3 separate regions of the Homo sapiens genome follow, and all the other regions are linked to region 1. The links come from fine-mapping of genetic effects on gene expression. A gene starts in region 1. Each other region holds a variant in brackets. All regions are shown on one strand. Distances are from middle to middle. Region 1 holds the start of GCNT1 (glucosaminyl (N-acetyl) transferase 1). Region 2 has its middle 73 kb from the start of GCNT1. Region 3 overlaps GCNT1 (glucosaminyl (N-acetyl) transferase 1).

What was found.
Region 2: its variant is fine-mapped to the expression of GCNT1 in whole blood (INTERVAL, PIP 0.92).
Region 3: its variant is fine-mapped to the expression of GCNT1 in esophagus mucosa (GTEx, PIP 0.96).

The regions. Positions count from the first base shown.
Region 1 is chr9:76,454,827-76,463,010 of GRCh38, reverse strand. GCNT1 (glucosaminyl (N-acetyl) transferase 1) reads right to left here and starts at 3,829. Exons shown (of 4, transcript NM_001490.5): 1 at 3,706-3,829; 2 at 2,834-2,951. RefSeq lists silencers at 2,445-2,514, 3,505-4,044 and an enhancer at 2,785-2,894.
Region 2 is chr9:76,527,904-76,536,087 of GRCh38, reverse strand. No RefSeq gene overlaps it. Among named protein-coding and RNA genes, the nearest start is that of GCNT1, 73 kb to the right of the region's middle. The variant A/C (reference allele first, on the strand shown) is at 4,777.
Region 3 is chr9:76,481,613-76,489,796 of GRCh38, reverse strand. The region is part of intron 2 of GCNT1 (glucosaminyl (N-acetyl) transferase 1); the gene reads right to left. Among named protein-coding and RNA genes, the nearest start is that of GCNT1, 27 kb to the right of the region's middle. The variant T/C (reference allele first, on the strand shown) is at 4,982.

The sequences.
Region 1 (8,184 bases):
CAGTCTTCGTTTTATTGCTGTTAGCTAAAAAGAGGTTAATTTTTCTTAAAACTAAATTCTACTTAAAACTACCGTAGAATTCCTTTTTCATTTTCAACTTTTTAAACTTTATGAAATTTAACAAATACACTGAACGCTTGAAATTTCTTTGGAGATAGAAACTGGCAGGGCATGCTTCTCAGAATAGGAAAAAGAAAAAAAAAGAAACTGGCAGGACACATTGGCCATTCACAAAGAACACTGGTTTAGTTATCTTTATGATAAAGGTGTTTCAAGGCGTCAGATGTTTAAATTTACAAATAGCTTCTCTAGTCCTGAAGAGTTTCAAGTTAATTGTTAAGCTTATAAATGTTTAGACCATCTCAGAAACATTTAGACCATCTTAAATATAGGTTCATTTTGTTCCTCAACCAAAGATGACTTTGTTCTCCGGGGAACATTTGCCTATGTCTGGAGACATTTGGGGTCATTTAACTGCAGGGAGGGTGCACTGGCATTTAGTAGGTAGAGGCCAGAGATGCTGCTAAACATCCTGCAATGCACAGGACAGCCCCCACAACAGAATTTAACTGGCCAAAAATGGCAAAAGTGCCACAATTGAGAAAGGCTGGTCTAAACATATATGGCATTTGCCTCAGATAGGAAACGTGACAGCACTAAGCCACAAATCCAGTGACAAAGCCAAGAATACAGACAGTCTCCACAAGAAACACATATGGTTATATGAACAGTCATTTGGGAACTCCCTTTTTAAGACAGGGAGTTAGACATTTGACATACTGACCTGGAACCATGAATACATTTCTCATTAGAATAAATAAAAATAGTGACAAGAGTCCTTGGTTGGCTCTATAAAAAAAAAAAAAATACAGTATAGCTGAAATACCACACACTTCATAGAAAACAGAATTTGACAGTCAGAAGGGATCATTTCCAGTAGTAATTTCTGTTTTCTACCACTTCATTTCATGAAAAATGTACAATATCTACATCACAGTTCAGAATTTTCCATTCATCGGAGAATATAATCACCGTGTACAGTAGCAGTTTTTAAGGCAGAGTTTTGCAAACAGATGATGCATGAAACAAATTTGATTTTATTCTTTGTGGGATTTTTGTTTTGAGACGGAGCTTCACTCTGTCGTCCAGGCTTGAGTGCAGTGGCACGATCCCTGCTCATCCTAACCTCCGCCTCCCGGGTTCAAGCAATTATCCTGCCTCAGCCTCCTGAGTAGCTAGGATTACAGGTGCCCACCACCACACCTGGCTAATTTTTGAATATTTTTGTAGAGATGGGGTTTTGCCATGTTGGTCAGGCTGGTCTTGAACTCCTGACCTCAAGTGATCCACCTGCCTCAGCCTCCCAAAATGTTGGGATTACAGGTGTGAGCCACCATGCCCAGGCTCTTTGTGTGTGTTTTTTTTTTTGAGACAGACTCTCGCTCTGTCACCCAGGCTGGAGTGCAGTGGTGCAATCTCGGCTCACTGCAACCTCCGCCTCCCGGGTTCAAGCAATTCTCCGTCTCAGCCTCCCGAGTAGCTGGGATTACAGGCGCCTAGCCACCACGCCCAGCTAATTTTTGAATTTTTAGTAGAGACACCATCTTGGCCAGGCTGGTCTTGAACTCCTGACCTCGTGATCCACCCGCCTGGGCCTCCCAAAGTGCCGGGATTACAGGTGTGAGCCACTGCGCCCGGCCCTCTTTGTGTTCTAAAAAGGAAAAAATATGAGCCAATATTTAAAATCAGGCTTTACATTTTTTATTTTTAAGTAAAAGTTCTCAGCTATTCGTGGAAAAAAAAAAAAAAAAAAAAAGCTGCCTACACTGTATGGCTGAATGGGAATTCCTGCATGGATACTCGGTGGAAATGGCCAATATCCACCCAGCCTTAGCAGGTTCCTCTGCAGTCACCTGGGCCCAACCAAGCACTCTTGTGCATTACCTGTTTAGTCCATGTGGATAAAGTGGATTTTGTGATCCCAGTTTTAGGGAAAAACGTTTTTCTTACTGTTAAGCAATTCAATTACAAACGGAAAAGGAGTAACTCCTTAAAAAGTGAGTGGAAGCATTGCTATCATTAATCAAGAATGAACTATAATTAATGAAGGATAGAATCTAGTACAAACTTGGGGCCAAGGCTAAGGAGATCCTTTACAGGGCCAAGTTGAAGGACGGGCAGAGGAGGTGGCAGTGACCGTCAAACCCTCATCATGAAATGGAAAAAATATCAACCTCTCGGCCAATAAAACTTTTTAAAAGTAAATTCATAGTTTGGTATATTGTATTTTAAAATAAAGGAGTTTGCCATTTCTAAGAAATCAGTTTCCCAAAACTACCATTTTAAGGGCCCGAAAAAAATTCCTTTAAGAAAAAGCAGGTATCTACACAGTCTGAGTTTTCCTCCCTGCTAGAACTGAAATCTGTTACGAAAGCCTCCAGCAGGGGGGCCTGCCTGGAATTGCCTAAGCTCCTAGCAGGTAATTTACACTGATCTTTAAAAACTACTAAGCCCTCCTCCTCCCCTCTATAAAACAAACCGGCCTTTCAGAACAGCTCTGGAAGGGGGGCAGAATGCCAGACGAAGAGACAACTTCCAGACCACGTCTCTCACCTCCCACCCATCAAATTCAGCCCACAAAAAGCTGTGGCCGCATTCTCATCTCAAGGCACCACGGCTTTCTTTGAACACCATATATCTTCCCAATTGGCCTCTTGCCCCATTATGTGTAAAAAACCGACTCTCTTTTCTGCAGAAAGAAATAACAAGGCAAAGGGTGTACAGGGCAACGTTTATATGCATCTACAGCATGCCAGGTGCCTACAGAACCTACCTCGGCCTAGGCGGTCCGTGCCCTAGCCGGGATCTGCAGGCGCCCTCATCCACGCTGGGAGACGGGAAGAGGAGAGGGAGGCGTGACAGGCGAGGGTGCCTGTGCTGCGCAGAAAGCGCTGCCAGGAGAAAAGAAGCAGTGAGCAAGGGCTTCTTCCATTTCAAAAACCTAATAACCAAAACTTGGAGGAATCTGCCTGAGATACTTAAAAAAAAGAGGAAAGAGAAACCTAGGAGGGGGTAAAATGCTTTTAAGACGAATCACTTGTTTTCGTAATAGACCCTGCGCGCGAGTTTCCTAGACTGCCGCGAGAAGAAGGAAAGCGAGGGAGCAGGAAAGGAGAGGCTTCGGAGCCCCTAAACTAACGTCTCTTTTCTTATTAGTAATAGTTTGCTCCAGGGTGAGTCATTTATTATCCTAGCGTTGGCCTCTTTATCAGTAAAGTAGGGGTGAAAATGCATCTTAGCCGGGCTGGCGTTAGGATTCAATGAAGTTAAATGAAGTTAAGCCCCTGGCACCCATGGGATGGCAGCGAGTCTGTTCGTTCCCTGCCTATCCACGCCCGCAGCCAACCCCTCCGACATCTAAGCTACACGGACCAGGGGCAAGAGGCCAGAAAGTGACTTTCAGGGGACACGGGGCACCGGCGTCCCAGCCCCACTGAGCGGACGGAAAATGAAGGTGGAAGGAAGAGGCGCCGCTCCATTCCGGTCCCGGGCGCACCCCGGTTCTGCTTCCTCCTCCGCGGGGGAGCCCAGCCCGCCCGGGGCCACGGGGCACTGGCTGAGAGCCGGCTCCCTCCCACCCATCCTTCTCAGCCTTCCCCCACCGCCGGGCGGCCGAGCAGGGGAACACGAGGGAGAGCCGGTTACCTGGAGTGGGCGTCTGACCCCGGAGTCTCAGGAGGATGCCCAGCCGCTCCTGCTCCACCAAGCTCCCGCCCCGCGCCGCGCTCTAGGCGCTCCGGAGCTGCGCCTGCAGCCCTCACACCAGCGTGGCCCGCCCCGGGGCCGCCCCCAGAGGCCCCGCCTTTCTAGGCCCCGCCCACCACGTCCCCGCCTCGCCCACCTGCGCGAGCTCGGGGCTGGGGACTTGCTGCGGACTCGCGGTTCCCGCCTACAGGCGAGGGCGCCCTCTGGGCACTGACGTGGTCTGGGAGTAGCGCTGCGATCCTAGTGCTTCCTCGCTCCTCTTCCTCACTGTGCTCTGATTCTTAAGAGGTGTGTGAGCGGCGTCTTTTTAAACATTTTATGCCTCCCTTCCTCGAAAGCAGGAAACTCGAGAAATGCTGCCTTTTCTGATTTTAAACATGAAAATATGTTACAGAACAACAATAAAATTAAATTCCAAGGTTCTCGATATGTAAAGTTTAGAGATAACCATGTAGGTGTTTTTTTCTCTCCCCTAACGAACCTTGCTTCCTAAATTTAGCATTTAAGAACTCATTACATTCATGTGTATTTCCACATAAAAATTAAGATCAAATTAAACTGTGGAACAATCCACAGTGCTGTGGAAAGTAGGAAAAAACCTTCCCCGCCCTTATAGCACAGATCTTTGTGTCAGTTATAAAAGTTGACACAGTTCTCTTTGTAACAAGGGGAATATTGTGTCTGTGTCTTCTTTCGTTGGATTTTTAGCTCCTAGAAAACAGAACGAGGTCTTATTTGTTTCCATGTTGTTTAAAAAAAATTCTGGCCGGGCGCGGTGGCTCACGCCTGTAATCCCAGCACTTTGGGAGGCCGAGGCGGGCGGATCACCAGGTCAGGAGATCGAGACCATCCTGGCTAACATGGTGAAACCGCGTCTCTACTAAATATACAAAAAATTAGCCAGGCGTGGTGGCGGGCGCCTGTAGTCCCAGCTACTCGGGAGGCTGAGTCAGGAGAATGGCGTGAACCCGGGAGGCGGAGCTTGCAGTGAGCCGAGATCGTGTCACTGCACTCCAGCCTGGGCAACAGAGCGAGACTCCATCTCAAAAAAAAAAAAAAAAAAAAAAAAATCCAACTCAGAGGCCATTAGACTGTGATATGTTTGACACTTGCCTGATTTGTCAACAAAAATTAACATAAGATGATGGTATAGAGGAAGAAAGACTTCCCCTCTACTCTCTGAGGCTTGGATAACTAAGTCTATGAAATAAATTGACTGCAGGTAGATTAACAAGAGAAAAAGTACACAGATTTCGTGTAGGGGGTATCACAGAAAAGAAAAACTAATATTCCCTCTGCCTCCCCCAACAAAAACTGAGATTTTAGGAGCTTGTGTATCCTCTTCATTGGGGAGGGACAATTTAGGGGAGAGGAAATGATTTTGGGAAAAACTCCTGAACTCCTTCAATGGCTAGCTTTGTTTAATATCTCATGAAATTTTTCATGAGCAATTCAAGCATAATTGTTAAGAGCAAGTAGATTAGGTAAATGTAAATGGAATAAAAGTTTATAAACTTTTAAAAATAATTTGTTTTATAAAATTTGTCTACTTAAAAATAGTTTTAAAAATCTTTTTTGGTGACTTGAAATTTCGAACATATTAAATTAAGTAATAGATATTCATTAAATGTCTGAGTCATTTGTAAGTTAAAATACTGACATGTTAATTGCTAAACATAAGTTTAAAGTATAGCCGGGGCTGGGCACAGTGGCTCATGCCTGTAATTCCAGCACTTTGGGAGGCCGAGGTGGGTGGATCACCTGAAGTCAGGAGTTTGAGTCCAGCCTGGCCAACATACCAAAACCCCGTCTCTACTAAAAATACAAAAATTAGCCAGCTGCGGTGGCGTGTGCCTGCAGTCCCAGCTACTCAGGAGGCTGAGGCATGAGAATCGCTTGAACCCGGGAGGTGGAGGTTGCAGTGAGCTGAGATCGTGCCACTGCACTCTGGCCTGCGTGACAAAGCAAGGCTCCATCTCAAAAATAAATAAATTAATTAATTAAAAATAAAATATAGCTGGCTGTTTGCAATGGCTCACGCTTGTAATTCCAACACTTTAGGAAGCCGAGGTACAAGTATCACTTGAGCCTGGGAGTTTGAGATCAGCCTGGGCAGCATAGCCAGACCTCACCTCTACAAAATAAAAATAGATAAATTAACCAGGGGTGGTGGCCAAGCAATAGATTTATGAATTAACTTTTGGAATATATCTTGTTTGTCAGTTGGATACTGCCTGTATACCATAAGTGTAATCCATTTTGTTTGTGTATGTGACAGGGTCTCACTCTGTTACTCAGGCTGGAGCACAGTGGCGCAATCACAGCTCACTGCAGCCTCAACTTACCCCTGCTCAGGTGATTCTCTCACCTCAACCTCCCAAGTAGCTGGGACTACAGGTGTGTGCCACCATGCCCGGTAATTTTTTGGTATTTTTTGTAGAGATAGGGTTTCACCATGTTGCCCAGGCTGGGTTTGAACTCCCACGCTCAAGCGATCCACCCACCTCAGTCTCCCATAATGCTGGGATTACAGGTGTGAGCCACCTTGCCCAGCCCACTTATTTTTAATGCCTGCAATAACATACACCCATAAATCTATACAAGTAGTTTAGAAGGTATTTCTGGAATGCTTAGGGGTGTATCAGTCAGGGCCCAGTCAGAAAACAGAAATCACAGCAATTACTTTTACAGAGAATTTAAGGTCATGAAGATTGGCAAGGCAAAAACATTGTAGTAACAGAGAGAGAGTAACTGCAGGAAGCAGCTGCCATGCACAGAGCTGGGGAGAGGGGAAGTGTTGGGGTTATCAGAACCTAACAGCCAGGAGAGGGCCCCTGGTTGGCTGGGAGTCAGACCTCAAAGGAGGGGGCGGTACCCAGCTGGTGCTTTTATCTCTGAAGGTAAATATTGAGGCTGGATGGGAGAGGGTGGATTAAAACAAACAAACAAATCTAAGAAACTGGAACCAGCTGTTGCTGCAGCCAGGGAGAAGAGCCATTGCTTGGTAACATGGACAGGAACAGTAAGCAGCTATAAAGTAGCAAGTCCCTCTCCTCAAGCACCCCTTATAAGCAAAACCTTATAGGAAATGTGATTTGCTAAGTCCCAGCCCTGGCTCACAAAGCAGAAGATAGAAGCTTGAGTTTGAACTCTAAGACATACTTCAATAACCAGCACAAGGAGCAAACTCATGATCACAAACACCCAACTCTCCTAATATTATAGATGTGGGAAAGTGTCTGATAAACACAGCTGTCATAGTAATGATTAATACAATAGCAATATATTCTTAAAATGTCATAATAAAACTATAGTTACAAGTACAATCAAATAACGGGACAGAGGCAGGGCATGGTGGCTTATGCCTGTAATCCCAGCACTTCGGGAGGCCGAGGTGGGCAGATCACTTGAGGTAAGGAGTTCGAGTTCCAGCCTAGCCAACATGGCGAAACCCCGTCTCTACTAAAAATATAAAAATTAGCTGGGTGCGGTGGCACATGCCTGTAATCCTAGCTACTGGGGAGGCTGAGGCACGAGAATCGGTTGAATCTGGGAGGCGGAGGTTCCAGTGAGCCAAGATCATGCCACTGCACTCCAGCCTGGGTGACAGAGCAAGATTCCATCTCAAAAATAGATAAATAAATAAGAATAAATTAAAAAAAAAGTAAGGGGATGGTGTTGCTTGACCTATACTTTGTGTTACTGGAGACCAGTGAACATCCTCTCCCGGCTGTATTTTCTGAGAAACCACTAACTACATAGAACCACCTTTCCCCAAATGACTTAGGTAATCATCATGGATAACATCCTTTCACACTTACAACAAGGCCATAGACATGCGCTCCAAATTTCCATTCTCATCTTATAAATGGTTAGCTGAACCATTTGCCCCTACTGATCAATCTGGGCAAATACCTTACTTGATCAAACTTCAATGAGGCTTTTCTCCTTCCATCAGGTCTTTGCCCTTTAATCTAGTCTCAGCCTAAACCAGCATTGGAATTTGGAATAAGCCCCTTAATGTCCTGTATTAGTCTGCTTTCACATTGCTATAAAGACATTTCTGAGACTGGATGATTTATAAAGAAAAGAGGTTTAAAGGCTGGGTGCGGTGGCTCACGCCTGTAATCTCAGCACTCTGGGAGGCTGAGGCGGGCGAATCACAAGGTTAGGAGTTCGAGACCAGCCTGACCAACATGGTGAAACTCTGTCTCTACTAAAAATACAAAAATTATCCAGGCGTGGTGGTGCACGCCTGTAATCCCAGCTACTCAGGAGGCTGAGGCAGGAGAGTCGCTTGAACCCGGGAGGCGGAGGTTGCAGTGAGCTGAGATCATGCCACTGCACTCCAGCCTGGCGACAGAGTGAGACTCTGTCTAACAAAAAAAAAAAAAAAAAAAAAAGAAAAGAAAAGAGGTT
Region 2 (8,184 bases), 73 kb before region 1:
TACATACATATATTCATATAATAAGGGTGACATTCATACTGCTCCATACCTTGATTTTTTTTCACTTATAGTACATCTACCCTATAACCATCCAAACCTATAGACATATTACCCTCATCCTCTCCTTTAAGGTTTTAGTTCAACACTGTTTCCTGCCTGCGAATACTTCAACATTTCTCTCCTCCCAGGTGATTCTATGAAGCCATCAAGATCTACCTCATATTCTGTATTCTCCAAGCATTTAGTGCTTCTATATTGCCAATTTACTAGATAACGATACAGGAACCATCATAGCTCAGTGGAAAGGAAGGTGAACTCTTGAGTCAATCATTCAGGGATCTTATTCTCAGCTCTACCTCTAACTAGCTGAGCAAGGGGCTTATGGAGGTCCCCTTGGACATTTTTCTAAATTCCTCTAGACCTATTTTCTCACATAAAACTTTTTTTAATAAAAATGAATAATTATCTTGAATAACGATGTTGTTTTTATACACGTTATACATGTGTGTTAAGTATTTGTGTTAGGGTTCTCCAGAGAAACAGAACAGGATGTGTGTGTGTGTCTCTATACACTGTGTATACTGTGTGCGTGTGTGTGTGTGTGTGTGTGTGTGTGTGTGTGTGGAGGGGGGGTGCATACACAGTCAGCCCTCTGTGGGTTCCACATCCAACTGCAGATTGAAAATATTTGGGGGGAAAAAAGAGAGGATAATTGCATCTTTAACTAACATATATAGAATTCTTTTCTGGTCATTATTCCCTAAACAATATAGTATAACAACTATTTACATAGCATTTACATTGTCTTAGGTGTCAATCGAGAAAAATGACAAGACAAGTCTCAATCATTTTAGGAGGTTTATTTGCCAAAGTTAAGGACGTGCATCCATGACACAGCCTCAGGAGATCCTGATGACATGAGCCCAAGGTGATCAGGGCACAGCTTGGTTTTACACATTTTAGGGAGACATGAGACATCAATCAATGTATGTAAGAACTACATTGGTTCTGAGGGACAACTCAAAGCAGGGAGGGGGCTTCCGGGTCATAGGTAGCTGAGAGACAAATGGTTGCAGTCTTTGAGCTTCCGATAAGAAGGAGGCAATCAGAATATGCATCTATTTCTGTGAGCAGAGGGATGACTTTGAATACAATGAGAGGCAGGTTTGTCCTGAGCAGTTCCCAGCTTGACTTTTCCCTTAGCTTAGTAATTTGGGGGTCAAAAGATTTTCCTTTCACATAGGAATTAGAAGTAATCTAGAGATGATTTAGAGTATACAGGAGGGCCTGCATAGGTTACTTGCAAATACTACAACATTTTATACAAGGGACTTAAGCATCCTTGAATTTTGGTATTTTCAAGGGGTCCTGAAACCAATCCTCCACAGTTACTGAAGGATGACTGTATGAAGAATGACTGTATGTATATGTATATGTATATGTATATGTATATGTATATGTATATGTATATGTATACATGTAAAGAGAGACAGAGAGAGAGAGATTGATTTTAAGAAGTTGGCTCATGAGATCGTGGAAGCTCACAAGTCCAACATCCACAGGGTAAACCAGCAGGCTACAGACCCAGGGAAGAGCTGCAGTTTGAGTCCAAAGACCATCTGCTGGTGGAATTCTTTCTTTTTCTGGAGAAGCCAGTCTTTTTCATTATTAAGGCTTTCAACTGACTAGATGAGGTCCACCCACATGATGGAGTATAATCTGCTTTACTCAAAGGCTACTGATATAAATGTTAACCTCATCTAGAAAAAATCCCTTCGCAGAAACATCTAGAATAATGCTTGACTAGATATCTGAGTACCATGGCCTAGCCAAGTTGACACATAAAATCAATCATCATAGAGCTATTTAAATTTAAAAATACCAAAAGACACACAAAAAAAGTTTTATCCTCCTCCACCCCAAATCCAAATAGCTAGGAGCAAGCAATCTCAACATTTAGTAACATTTAGTCACTTTTCTCAGAATTTCTGTGGTTAGCCAGCTAGATAAACAGAAAGATAAAAGAAGGATATAATAAAAATGCTATTTTTAAGATGAAAGATTATAATTTAATATTTTTAAAAGGGAAAAAAGTAAAGTATAACTTCAAATGAATGTTTCTTTACAATAAAGTAGGCATTCCTAAGAGATCCTTCTAGGGCTCAGTGAAAACATTACGGAAAGCCATTAAGAAGTTGGTCATTTTAGAGCTTTCTTTTTTTTCTTACTATTAGTTTTAATTCTGGACAGAATCCATTTACTTCCTCTTATGAAATATAAAAAATTAGTACAGCACATGACCTCCTGACTTCCTCCCTTTCTCCACTTTCCAAAATTTATTTGTATTGTTATAAGTTTTACATGGTTAAGGTTTATAAAGCTTATGTGCTGACTATAATTTCTGCCGTGTTTCCTTTTAATTTTATATGTAAATATAGTCAGTGCTCATTACCATTTCTTTTGCCAAACCTTCTATATTTCTGATCTCTTAGTTTTGATTCTTCTCTTGAGTAGCTAGATTTTGTCAACAAATCTTTATTTTTTTTCCCCCAAATCATTTTTTTTTTTTTTTTATGAAAGGTTCAGGAGTGTGGTATATATGGTGACTAACCATGCTTGTTTATCTGAAACTGTCAGATTTTACACTGAAAGTCCTGTATTCTGAACAGCCCCTCAGTCCCGGGCAAACTGCACATGGTGGTCTTTGTAGCTGTATCCCTCACATTCCTCTTTCACCTATAAAGTAGCCCCTTCCCTGAGAATGCAGGAAACATTACACAGGCTGGAGAGATGTGGGAATTGTGTCTAGGAGAAGGGGCTGCTCACATGAAGGGAGATGAAGGGATTTGTGTTGGGGAAGAGGGCACATTCCAGGCAGAAGTGGGGACACATTTACTGCTGAGTTGAAAGAGAACACATTCTTATGTTAAAGGAGTAACGGAAAATTGAAGTGGCTGGAGCTTAAGGTACATGAAACAGCATGTAAGAGATGCCACTAGGCCGGGCGCAGTGGCTCACACTGTAATCCCAGTACTTTGGGAGGTTGAAGCAGGTGAATCACTTGAGGTCAGGAGTTTGAGACCAGCCTAGCCAACATAGCAAAACCCCATCTCTACTGAAAATACAAACATTAGCTGGGTGTGGTGGCACATGCCTGTAGTCCCAGCTAGTTGGGAGTCTGAGGCAAGAGAATCGCTTGAACTGGGGAGGCGGAGGTTGCAGTGAGCTGAGATATCACCATGGCACTTCAGCCTGGGTGGCAGAATGAGACTCCATCTCAACAAAAAAAAAAAAAAAAAGGAGAGAGATGCCACTGAACAGATAAGTTAGGACTAAATGGGGAGGCCCTTTGCTTTGGCTGCATTGACTGCCACTCTGTCCTTCAGTAACACTTTTACCCTAGAAAAGGGATGTTGAAGAATTTAAAAGTTCTTGGGAGACTCATACATACTCAAATCAAAATGTTCATATATGCTACTGAGGACCGTATCTTAAAACAAGAAAAGAAAATGCTCATATAGCACCTTATATCTTATGTCAGTTATTTGTTTCTTTCAGAATCATACTTGATATTTCCAGCTGATTGTGAGAATATTCTTCTACTTAGGGTTTTCTTTTTTGAAAAAATTTTATTTTTTTTTTTGTAGAGAGAGTTTCGCCATTTTGCCCAGGCTGGTCTCAAACTACTGAGCTCAAGCGATCCTCTAGCCTCCGCCTCCCAAAGTACCGGAACTTTTTTGGTGATAGGGTCTCACTCTGTGAGACCAGGCTGGAATGAATACAGTGGTGAGATTATGGCTCACTGTGGTCTTGAATTCCTGGGCTCAAATAATCCTACCGCCTCAGCCTCCCAGTAGCAGGGACTACAGGCCACCATGCCCAGCTAATTTTTAAATTTTTTGTAGAAATGGGTTTTTACCATGTTGTCCAGACTGGTCTCAAACTCCTGGGCTCAAATGATTCTCCTGCCTCAGCCTCCCAAAGTGCTGGGATTACAGGAGTGAGCCACCGCACCTGGTCAACTTTCTTTTCTCTTGTTGTTGAGACAAAGTCTCACTCTGTTACCCAGGATGGAGTGCAGTGGCACAATCACGACTCACTGCGGTCTCATACTCCTGGGATCAAGCAATCCTCCTACCTCAACCTCCCAAGTAGCTGGGACTACAGGCCACCATGCCTGGCTAATTTCTAAAGTTTTTGAAGAAGGCCAGGCATGGTGGCTCATGCCTATAATCCTAGCACTTTGGGAGGCTGAGGTGACGGGATTGCCTGAACTCAGGACTTGGAGACAAGGTTTCACCATGTTGCCAAGGCTGGTCTTGAACTCCTGGGCTCAAGTGACCCTCCTGCTTTGGTCTCTCAAAGTGCTGGCATTACAGGGTGAGCCACTGTACCCACCCTTGATTTTCTTTTAAAGCCAGAAAAGCGAACAGCCTGGTTGAGAATTGGGGGCCAGTTAATGTTCCTCTCACCTAAGAAACCAAACCAGTCCAGCAACCTCTTTCCAGTATGTTAGCAATGTGGACAGAGGAGAGGACAAATAGAGAAACCTAATGAAATAGTTCTTTTCTGAAAACATCGCTGTTTTTATTTTGTTTTGCTTTTAATCTGAGAGCAAACTTTCTGGCAGTGCCCTCCCATCAAGGAGTAAATAGTTGAGTGGTTGCTGAAGGGTGGTTGGCAGGAAGGCTGATTATGTTGACTCAGTTGACCGTGGTGTTTTCTGAATAGTAGAGCCCACAGAACTGCTCTCCCTGATTCTAGAACCCACACAAA[A/C]AATCTGGGTTTGGGATTTAGGAAAAACAACAGAAGGTTTTTAGGGTCCATGTACCCATAGAAAACTGTAGCTTCCTGCTTTTATAAAAAATCAATTTTGAGTATATAGTTAGTATATTTTTTCTCAAAATAGCAAATCCATTTGAGAAATCAACAATTTAATAACAATGTTTTTTTAAAAATTGAAATATCTGGCAAATGATTAAACATGGCCAATTTACAAGCAACTTTTCAATCTTAGTGAAAGGGCTGATTTGGATAGAAATCAACAAAATTGTCAGGAGGGGCCATAAGTGAGGGAAGAGGGAAGAAGCTGCTGGAAAAAAAACGAAAGGAAAGCAGTTACTAGGGACAATGTCTCCATTAGTCACAGCAGGCAGAGTGCCTGCGACCGACAATACTTTCAGAGGCCTACAGAAAGTGGTTTCATTTTTATTTCCGTTAAAATCAGAAGAAAAAAATGAATATATTATAATGGACCCAGCCTGGATTATATTTATATTTACACTAATGCAGTTGTGAAATACAATTTTTATTGTTTTTTCTTAAGAAGGAAGGAGCCCACAGAGGCAACGTGGTTGGGGCCTAAGAAAGTCCTCATGTGGCCCTGGCAGTTACTAAATAGGTTGGTTCAAATGCCTAAAAAAATACAGCCCTGTGGTTAATGAAATGTCTTCAGTGACGTTAACATTGATAGCATCCACATTTCCCTAGCTGAGTGGGCCCCCTCTACAGACTACAGGATCTCAGCCCACCTTTTAAAGCTTCCCCAGCCATAACTAGAGACCCCTTCCAAGTGCTCAGTACCAAGGCCAATCAGATTTTTTTTTTTTTTTTTTGAGATGGGAGTCTCACTCTGTCACCCAGGCTGGAGTGCAGTAGGTCCATCTCGGCTCACTGCAAGCTCCACCTCCTGGGATCAAGAGATCCTCCTGCCTCAGTCCCCCTAGTAGCTGGGACCACAGGCACACGCCGCCCTGCTCAGCTAATTCTTGTTTTTTTGTTGCTGTTGTTTGTTTTTTTGAGACGGAGTCTTGCTCTGTTGCCAGGCTGGAGTGCAGTGGCGCAATCTTGGCTCACTGCAGCCTCTGCCTCCCAGGTTCAAGTGATTTCCCTGCCTCAGCCTCCCGAGTAACTGGGACTACAGGTGCGTGCCACCACGACCGGCTGATTTTTTTTTTTTAATTGTATTTTAGTAGAGATGGGGTTTCACCATGTTGGTTAGACTGGTCTCGAACTCCTGATCTCAGGTGATCCGCCCACATTGGACTCCCAAACTGCTGGGATTACAGGCGTTAGCCACCGCGCCCAGCCCCAGTCAGATTTTTCTGTGCTGCTCCTTTCCACTGCCAAGAAGCCCTGTTAGGAGATGCCTCGTTAGTATTACTTTAGCTGGTGTCTACTTCAGCCTTTTTATCTAGGTGCTGTTTCCAAACTTTCAGTTCCTCATGGTGCCCACACAGCACTGGAGAACCTTCCATCCCAACCCAGTGTTAAAAGCTGTGCTGCAGGCACCCAGGAAGGGGGAAGCTTCTCCGTCTATAAATCAGGGTAATATGTTTCACTGAAGTCCTGAAACATCTGTGCTTGTACCTGGAGCCTCCCAAAGTCCTTCATGTAAATAGTAACTCCAGTGAATTACTGGTCTCTGAGCCTGGGCTGAGGAACAGACAACATCCTATCTTCCACTCTCCCATTCAATCCTGTCTCTTGTCCCACGGCATCCAAACACTTTTTCCTCCAATGTTCCGTTCTTCCAGGAAAATGTACACATACCACTTTGGTGCTGCCCTACACAAAGCAGATACTTGTTTTTTATTATACACACATGTATAAAGCCAAGTATTTCAAAAACAAGTATCAATTTTCAATTTTTTTTTTAAATATAGAGACAGGGTGTCACTGTGTTGCCCAGGTTGGTCTCCAACTCCTGCGCTCAAGCGATCCTGCCATCTTGGCTTCCCAAAGTATTGGGATTACAGATGTGAGCCATCCCACCTGGCTAATTTTCAAATATTTCAAAAGCAGTTAACATCGATATATAGTATATCTGAAACAAAGCATCATCAATATTGTCAATGCAGTATGTAATTAATATGGCCTCTTTTTACCATTTAAGTTCTGGTAAACAATTTTGATCCATCATATCTAACATAAAATGTGCAAATGATAGTTCTAGAACTATAGTGAGGAGATAACGAAAGGATATTATGTTGGATGGTAAAGCTCAAGTGGTTTTGAGAGGTGACAACGTGCTAGCAGCCCTTGCTCACTCCCGGTGCCTCCTTGGCCTCAGCATCTGCTCTGGCCACACTCCAGGAGCCCTTCAGCCCGCAGCTGTGCTGTGGGGGCCCCTCTCTGGGGCTGGCCGAGGCGGGAGCCGGCTCCCTCTGCTCACAGGGAGGTGTGGAGGCAGAGGCGAGGGCGGCAGCTGGGGCTGTGGCGCTAGTGGGCCAGCACGGGTTCCAGGTGGGCGCGGGCTGGGAGCGGGTCCCACACTCGGCGCCTGCTGGGCTTGATCCAGGTACGAGCTCCCTCTGGGTTGCCGGAATGCCCGGGGTAGGTGCCCAAAAGTCCTGGCGGCCAGTGCCATTGAGAGGTGAAGCCAGCTGGGCTTTTGGGTTGGGTGGAGACCTGGAGAACTTTTCCCTCTGGCTAAAGGATTGTAAACGCACCAATCAGCACTCTGTGTCTAACTAAAGGTTTGTAAACACACCAATCAGCACTCTGTCAAGACAGACCAATCAACTCTCTGTAAAACGGACCAATCAGCTCTCTGTAAAATGGACCAATCAGCTCTCTGTAAAATGGACCAATCAATAGGATGTGGGTGGGGCCAGATAAGGGAATAAAAGCCACGCCACCTGAGGCAGCAGTGGCTACTTGGTTAACTGTGTCCCCTTCTACTCTGCCAAGGCTTTGTTCTTTGCCTCTTAGAAGTAAATGTTGTTGCTGCTCACCCTTTGGGTCCACGCTGCCTTTATGAGCTGTAACAATGAGCTGTAACACTCAGTGCGAAGGTCTGCAGCTTCACTCCTGAAGCCAGCCAGGGAGACCATGAACCCACGGGGAGGGATGAACAATTCCAGATGGGAGGAATGAACAATTCCAGATGGGAGGAATGAACAATTCCAGATGGGAGGAATGAACAATTCCAGATGGGAGGAACGAACAACTCTGGACGTGCCACCTTTATGAACTGTAACACTCACAGCAAAGGTCTGCAGTTTCACTCCTGAGGCCAGTGAGACCACGAACCCACTGGAAGGAACGAACAACTCCAGATGCGCCGCCCACTCACTGCGAAGGTCTGCAGCTTCACTCCTGAAGTCAGCAAGACCAGCAACCCCCCAGAAGGAAGAAACTCTGGACACATCTGAACATCAGAAGGAACAAACTCGGGACACA
Region 3 (8,184 bases), 27 kb before region 1:
CGGTCATCACCCAATTCCCAACAGCAGTTGGGGTGTCCTGTTTAGAGGGGGGATTGAGAGGTGAAGCCAGCTGGACTTCCTGGGTCAAGTGGGGACTTGGAGAACTTTTCTGTCTAGCTAGAGGATTGTAAAAACACCCATCAGTGCTCTGTGTCTAGCTAGAGGATTGTAAATGCACCAATCAGCATTCTGTAAAAATAGACCAATCAGCACTGTGTAAAATGGACCAATCAGCATTCTGTAAAACGGACCAATCAGCAGGACATGGGCGGGTCCAAATAAAGGAATAAAAAGCTGGACACCTGAGCCAGCAGTGGCAACCCGCTGGGGTCTCTTTCCACGCCTGTGGAAGCTTTGTTCTTTTGCTCTTCACAATAAATCTTGCTGCTGCTCACTCTTTGGGTCCACACCACCTTTAAGAGCTGTAACACTCACTGCAAAGGTCTGCGGCTTCATTTTTAAAGTCAGTGAGACCAAGAACCCTCCAGAAGGAACCAACTCCAGACACATTATGATTATGGTTTGACCAATAAAGTTTGGCAAAAGAAATACTATGTCACCATCAAGGCAAGGTCATGTAAAACCATGCAGCTTCCGCCCAGTTGTCTTGAAAAATGTGCTCTCTAGATAGAGGCTCCCTTTTAGAACCAGCTTCCATGCTGTAAGAAGCCACATGGAGAGACCAGATATAGGTACCTTAGTCAACTGTTCCAGCTGAACCCTGTTTTCAAGTAATCCCAGCCAGATGTCTGACATGTGAGTGAAGAAGCCATCAGATGACTACAGCCCCTAGTAACTCCAGTCTTCACCGAATTCTTGACCAACAGAATGTGTGAGCAAAAAAATAAAATGATATTGTTGTATCCTACTACATTTGAAGTGGTTTGCCTCATAGCAATAGATGACTAGAACAAACAGGAAACCACATAAATAGAACTAGCAAATAAAAAGAGCCCTTGAAAATTATTAACATGATAGCAAAAATGAAAAACTCGGCCAGGTGCGCTGGCTTAGGCTGGGCACAGTGGCTCAGGCCTGTAATCCCAGAACTTTGGGAGGACGAGGCAGACAGATCACCTAAGGCATGAGTTTGGGACCAGCCTGGCCAACATGATGAAACCCTGTTTCTACTAAAAGTACAAAAATTAGCGGGGCATGGTGGTGTGTGCCTGTAATCCCAGCTACTTGGGAGGCTGAGACAGAACAATCGCTTGAACCCAGGAGGAAGAGGTTGTAGTGAGCGGAGACTGTGCCATTGCACTCCACCCTGAGCAACAGAGCAAGACTCCAGCTCCAAAAATAGAGAAACTCAATAAAAGGGTTGGAAGATAAAGTGAGAAACACTCACAGCGAGTTAAGCAAATAGACAAACTGAGGGATGAGAAAATAAAACAAAACATACAGTAATTTAGAGAACTAGATCAGGAGACCTACCATACGAATAACAAGAGCTCCAGAAAAAGAAAACAGAAGAAAAAGAAAAAAGGAAAGAAGTCGTCAACTAAATAATTCAAGAGTATTTCCCAAAATGAAAGAATGGTTTCTAGATTGCAAAATCTTCTAGGGTATCAGCACAGTGGATGACAATAGACCCACACCAAGATGTATTCATTAATCATGAAATGTCAGAACAATGGGAGGAAGAATACTGCATATACTTTCAGGGGAGGGGGGAAACTAAGCCACATCAAATGGATTCAGAAGCAAAATGTATTCCAGCTACTGTCCAGCTACTGGAGAATGAGTTATATTCAATAATTATTAGACAGGTGCCATGGCTCATGCCTCTGATCCTAGCACTTTGGGAGGTGGAGGCGAGTGGATCGCCTGAGCCTAGGAGTTCAAGACCAGCCTGGGCAACACGGAGAGACTCTGTCTCTACAAAAAATATGAAATTATCTGCGTGTGGTGGTGTGCACCTGTAGTCCCAGCTACTCAGGGGACTGAGGTGGGAGGATCACCTGAGCCCAGGAGGTCAAGGCTGCAGTAAGCCATGATCGCACCACTGCACTCCAGCCTAGGCAACAGGAGTGAGACCCTGTCTCAAATATATGTATGCATTATTAACCAAGAAAGGGGAGGATGTAAGAATCAGAAAGGAGATCTAACCGAAGAAGAAAAAAAAGAGAATCCCCAGGTCAAGGAACATCTAGGCCATATAACAAGCCAACAGACAACCACAGCAGACTGGAACCTGTCAGAAGGCCCTGGGAGAGACATCTTCAAGAAGACAAAACTGGCTGGGCGCGGTGGCTCATGCCTACATATGCACGTAAGCATATGCACACATCTATGCATAAACAAACCGCTGATGGATAAACCTGGGTCACCAACCTATTGCCCTTCGGCAGCAGGAAGCATGGTCTAAGTTCAGTTGGCTTCTAGTCCCAGTGAATACTTATCAATTTCACTGACTCTCCAAGGACTACTGTTCAGTGTCCCAGAGGCTGCTGTGACTGGAGCAAAATACCAACTACTGTGTTTGATGTCAAAGCCATGCCAGTATCTCGGAGGACTGTGACCCAAGTGAGGGAGCCCAAACGCCACCCAAGGTAGGTCAAGGGAAGGAGCAGGAAACAGGTAAGATCACAAGGCGAAGGCCTTGCCATTCAGGGTGGAGTTCTTTCTGGCCAATTGCACTTTCATAGCCTCATCTCATCTTAGGGTATTTGGTCTCTGTCCCCACCACAACCTTGCCCTGCTTGGAGGGTAGTCTCTGATACCTGTCTGTGACTCCCTGCAGTGAGCTGCTTAGCTCCTCTGTGGTCTCACACTGAACAAACTGCTGAGACCCTAACTGTGGCTGGCCATGAGGAACCGGCCAAGCTCTTCTGCTAAAAATTTAGATCTAGTTTTGTTTGTTTGTTTGTTTGTTTGTTTTAAGTAGAGATGAGGGTCTCACCATTGTGGCCAGGCTGGTCTCGAACTCCTGACCTCAAGTGATCCACCCACCTCTGCCTCCCGAAGTGCTAGGATTGTAGGCATGAGCCACTGCACCCAGCCCTATTCTTTCTTCTCTTTTGACTGCCAGAAAAGAGTTCTGTTTCTAGTTCCCCACAAACTTGCAGGAACTGAAGATATCTAAAAGCATACTCTGTTTAAGATAAAATGATAATAAGCAATTTTTCAAAAAAGGCTAAGTCCCTCAAACACAAAGAATATAACTGAAGTAGTAGCATCAAAAATTTGAAAATTAGAGGTAGTGAATGATAACTGACTTGGAGATCTCAGGAAGCTGAATCCTAAAGCAGGCTATGGGGAAAGCTGAGACCGTGCAATTTACAGCCCACCTTCTGCTGAAAGGTAGACTAAAATAGAGCAATGCTTTCCAAATTCTGAAGGAAAACTGTTTTCAACTTGGAATTCTAAATAACCAGCCAAGCTATTGGTCAAATGTGATGTAACAGAAAGGCATTTTTATACAGCAAAGTCACATGCACCTTTCTCAGCAGGTTACTATGAGAAGTATGCCACTAAAAGATGAAATTCACCAGCAACTGTAAGAGCATTAACAACATCACTAACCTGGAGTGCTTAATATGCTCTGGAACTCTTCTAAATGGCTTACCCGTATTAACACATAGAATCTTCAGGAGAATGCTACATAGAAAGTATTATTTTCCAGATAAGGAAACTGAGGCATAAAGAGGTTAAATAGCTCTTCGAACGTCATATGGCTAGTAAGCAGAAGAGCTAGGCTTCAAACTCACATAATCTGGCCCCCAAGTTTGCGCTCTACTGCCCATTAAGAAAAAGACAGGATCTGGCCAGGCACAGTGGCTCACGCCTATAATCCCAGCACTTTGGGAGGCCGAGGCAGGCAGATCACTTGAGGTCTGGAGTTCAGGCCAGCCTGGCCGATATGGCGAAACCTCATCTCTACTGAAAATACAAAAATTAACCAGATGTGGTGGCGCACACCTGTAATCCCAGCTACTTGGGAGGCTGAGGCAGGAGAATCACTTGAACCTGGGAGGCGGAGGTTGCAATGAGTGAGACTGAGCCACTGCACTTCAGCCTGGGTGACAGCAGAGTGAGACCTTGTCTCAAAAAAAAAAAAGGAAGAGACAGGATCCAGTAATCAAGGGACCCAATATAAATGAGAGGCAACAGAAATCCTAGGATTACAAAGACAGATCCCAAGATGATGGTTGTGTGGGAGTACTAGGAAGAAACCAGTCCTTAATTAAAGCAAGTAAACAGCTCCAGAAAATATTTGAGAGAAACAGAGAACCCCTGCTGTAAATTAATGGATTTAGAAGAGATTTTGATAACTAAGGTAGAGTTCAGAATTAAATAAGTAAAATGCAGGCCAGGTGCAGGCCAGAATTAAATAAGTAAAATGCAGGCCTCCCAGCACTTTGGGAGGCCGAGGCAAGCTGATCACTTGAGGTCAGGAGTTCAAGACCAGGCTGGCCAACTCGGCAAAACCCTGTCTCTACTAAAAACACAAAAAATTAGCCGGGTGTGGTGGCATGCGCCCATAATCCCAGGTGCTTGGGAGGCTAAGGCAGGATAATCACTTGAACCTGGGAGGTGGAGGTTGAAGTGAGCCGAGATAGCACCACTGCACTCCAGCCTGGGTGACGGAGTGAGACTCCATCTCCAAAAAACATAAAAGTACATATAATAAACAAACAATATGAAAAAATGCCATTGAGTACAAGTGAGTAAAATATGCCAACAAGTATGTACAATAAAAGAAATCATGGTCGGGCGCGGCGGCTCACGCCAGTAATCCCAGCACTTTGGGAGGCCAAGGTGGGCGGATCATGAGGTCTGGAGTTTGAGACAAGCCTGGCCAACATGGTGAAACCCCGTGTTTACTAAAAATACAAAAATTAGCTGGGTGTGGTGGCACGAGTCTGTAGTCCCAGCTACTCTGGAGGCTGAGGCAGGAGAATCACTTGAATCTGGGAGGCGGAGGTTGCAGTGACCCAAAATGGTGCCACTGCACTCCAGCCTGGGTAACAGAGTGAGA[T/C]TCCATCTCAGAAAAAAAAAAAAAAAAAAGCAATCATGGTATGCTATGCTCAGTTTATACATGGCTATAGTAATATAAACATTGAGTTGTGGTCAAACAAAAAGCATGACAATATACAGAGGGTCTCAAAACTATTTTCATAATAATACTAGGCCATTCTGCACCCTTTTCACTCCCTCTGTGTTATATACGGCGCAGTTTTCCAGGGTCTACATGATGTGTTTGTTTTCAACAGAATAAGTGCAGAAGTATCAGAATTCAGGTATTTTCTATTAAGTCAAACAGTAAAAGAGATTTGCAAAAATACAAAAACACTGTTATTCTTCCAATTTTTCTGAAAAGATTTTCACAAGAAATTACTTATGTTAAAATAAAGGGCTTATCATTGTTATTTTCACAGAAGTAATACTTAAGTTTTTTGCTTTCTCTCTCTTTTTTTTTTTTTTAAGACAGGGTCTCAATCCATCACCCAGTCTGTAGTACAATGTCATTATCTTGGCTCACTGCAGGCTCAAACTCCTGGGGATCCTTCCACCTTAGCCTCTCAAGTAGCTGCAACCACAGGTGCACCTGGCTGCTTATTTTTGTAGAGATAGGGTCTCACTATGATGCCCAAGCTGGACTTAAACTTGATCTTGAATTCCTGGCCTCAAGCAAGCCTCCTGCCTTGGCCTCCCAAAGTGCTAGGATTACAGGCGTGAGCCACCATGTCCAGCCTCAGTTTTACTTTCTGATAGAATATATACCAATAGATATAACCCACATAAACAAAAGCTCTTTGTGATCCTCAGTGATTTTTTTAAAGTATAAACAGTGCTGAAATAAAAAAGTTTTCAGGCCAGGCATGGTGGCACACACTTACGATCCCAGCTACTTGGAAGGTTGAGGCGGGAAGAACACTTGAGCCCAAGAGTTCCAGATCAGCCTGGAACAACCTGAATCAACATAGCAAGACCCCATCTCATATTTAAAAATACACACACACGACAAAAAGTTTTTCAGAATCATTGACTTTGGGGATGAGAGACAGCCAGGAAATGAGTGCAAGTGTGGTGGAGGGTTTTGGTTGAAAGAGAATTAAACCCTCCTTAATGGTCAGGTGTGGTGGCTTGTGCCTGTTATCGTAGCACTTTGGGAGGCTGAGGTTGGAAGATCACTTGAGCCCAAGAGTTTGAGACTAGCCTAAGTAAAATGGTGAGATACCATCTCTACAAAAACAAGAAAAATTTAAAAATTAGCTGGGTGTGGTGGTGCACGCCTGTAGACCCAGCTACTCAGAAGGCTGAGATGGGAGGATCACTTGAGCCCAGGAGTTCGAGGCTGCGGTGAGCTATGATTGCACCACTGCACTCTAGACTGGGTGATAGAGAAAGACCCTGTCTCTATTAAAACAAAAAACAATAAAAAAAAAACCCCTCCTTAATAGTAGAAAGAACTTAAAGCTGAATAATTTAGAAACCATATAAGCATTATTATTTAGAGATATGAAAATACACACCTAAAGAAATCTGTAAAAAGTTGAAAATGGTTAACTTCAGGGCTATGCAGTAGAGAATGTTAGCTAGTAGTCACATGCAACTACTGAGCACTTGAAATGAGGCTAGTCTCAACAAATACTTTTTTAAAATTTTAATTATTTACATTTTAAAACTTGAAGCAGTATTAAATGTCTTTCCCTTAAACACATTACTGTTTCGGTAGGACTATATTTCACTTTAATGACATCATGTAAGATACTATTATTACATTGTAATACAAATATTAGACACATGTATCATTTCAATATTTCACTTTTTTATACTGTTTACATATTAACATTATAAAATTTTGATATACTAGATTAAAGATAATATACTGTTAATTTGGCCAGATGCAGTGGCTCACACCTATAATCCCAGCACCTTGGGAAGCTGAGGCAGGAGGATCACTTGAGTCCAGGAGTTTGAGACCAGCCTGGGCAACACAGTGAGACTCCCATCTCTACCAAAAAAAAAAAAAAAAAAATTAGCCCGGTGTGGTGGCGCATGCCTGTAGTCTCAGCTACCCAGGAGGCTGAGGTGGGAGGATCACCTGAACCCAGGAGATTGAGGCTGCAATGAGCCATGATCACACCACTGCACTCCAGCCTGGGTAAGAGAGCAAGACCCTGTCTCAAAAGGATAAAAAAAGATTTTACCAGTTCTTTTTTTTTTGAGATGGAGTCTCCCTCTGTTGCCCAGGCTGAAGTGCAGTGGTGCAATCTTGGCTCACTGCAAGCTCTGCCTCCTGGGTTCACGCCATTCTCCTGCCTCAGCCTCCTGAGTAGCTGGGACTACAGGCGCCTGCCACCACGCCCGGCTAATTTTTTTTTGTATTTTTAGTAGAGACAGGGTTTCACCGTGTTAGCCAGGATGGTCTCGATCTCCTGACCTCGTGATCCGCCCGCCTCAGCCTCCCAAAGTGCTGGGATCACAGGCATGGAGCCACCACGCCCAGCCCTGATTCTTTTTTTTTTAATGCTGCTACTAGAAAATTTTATTTCTCACATTATATTTCTAATGGACAATGGAGTTTTAGGGAGTAGGAGATTTGGGGGGCCATTGGGAGAAGCATGCTGTTTTTCGTAAGTACAACTCTTTGTTGGGAGGCAATTCGCCATGGGTGGCTTGCATTTCTGTACATCTTGCAAGTGAGGCACTGTCTTTTTGTTCCAGATAATTTTTTCAAGGCTATTTTTATAGCAAACAGCCTAGAAAGACAGAGATGGTGTTTCCCTCCCTAGCAAAGGGCAAACCTTCTTACTGACAATATAATAAAGACAATGTTACCTGGGGCAAAGCACAGCATGCTTACTGCCCACTATAAAAGATTTGGCTTCTCTAAGCTCAGGGTTTCTTTCCCATAATGCAACCCACTGTTTGTAGTTATCACTTGGCCCTCTTCATACTGCCCTGTGGGAATTAAGGCTCTAGCAACCTAAAAGAAAAATGCTGATCCTCTGCTACTGCTTAATATAGGTCATAAATGGCACTTCATCTCTGGCCCAGGAGTCTGTGTCTTTTGCCAGGATCCATGAAAATTGTTAACAGGCTTGTTAACTTTCAAGTAGGGTAAAATCTCAGACCCTTCGTAGTTCTTGACACGCTTGTGGAAATATCTTCTTTTTTAAATCACGTGCATTTATAACTCTAATTAAAATAAGAACTACATTTTTAAAAAGCCTT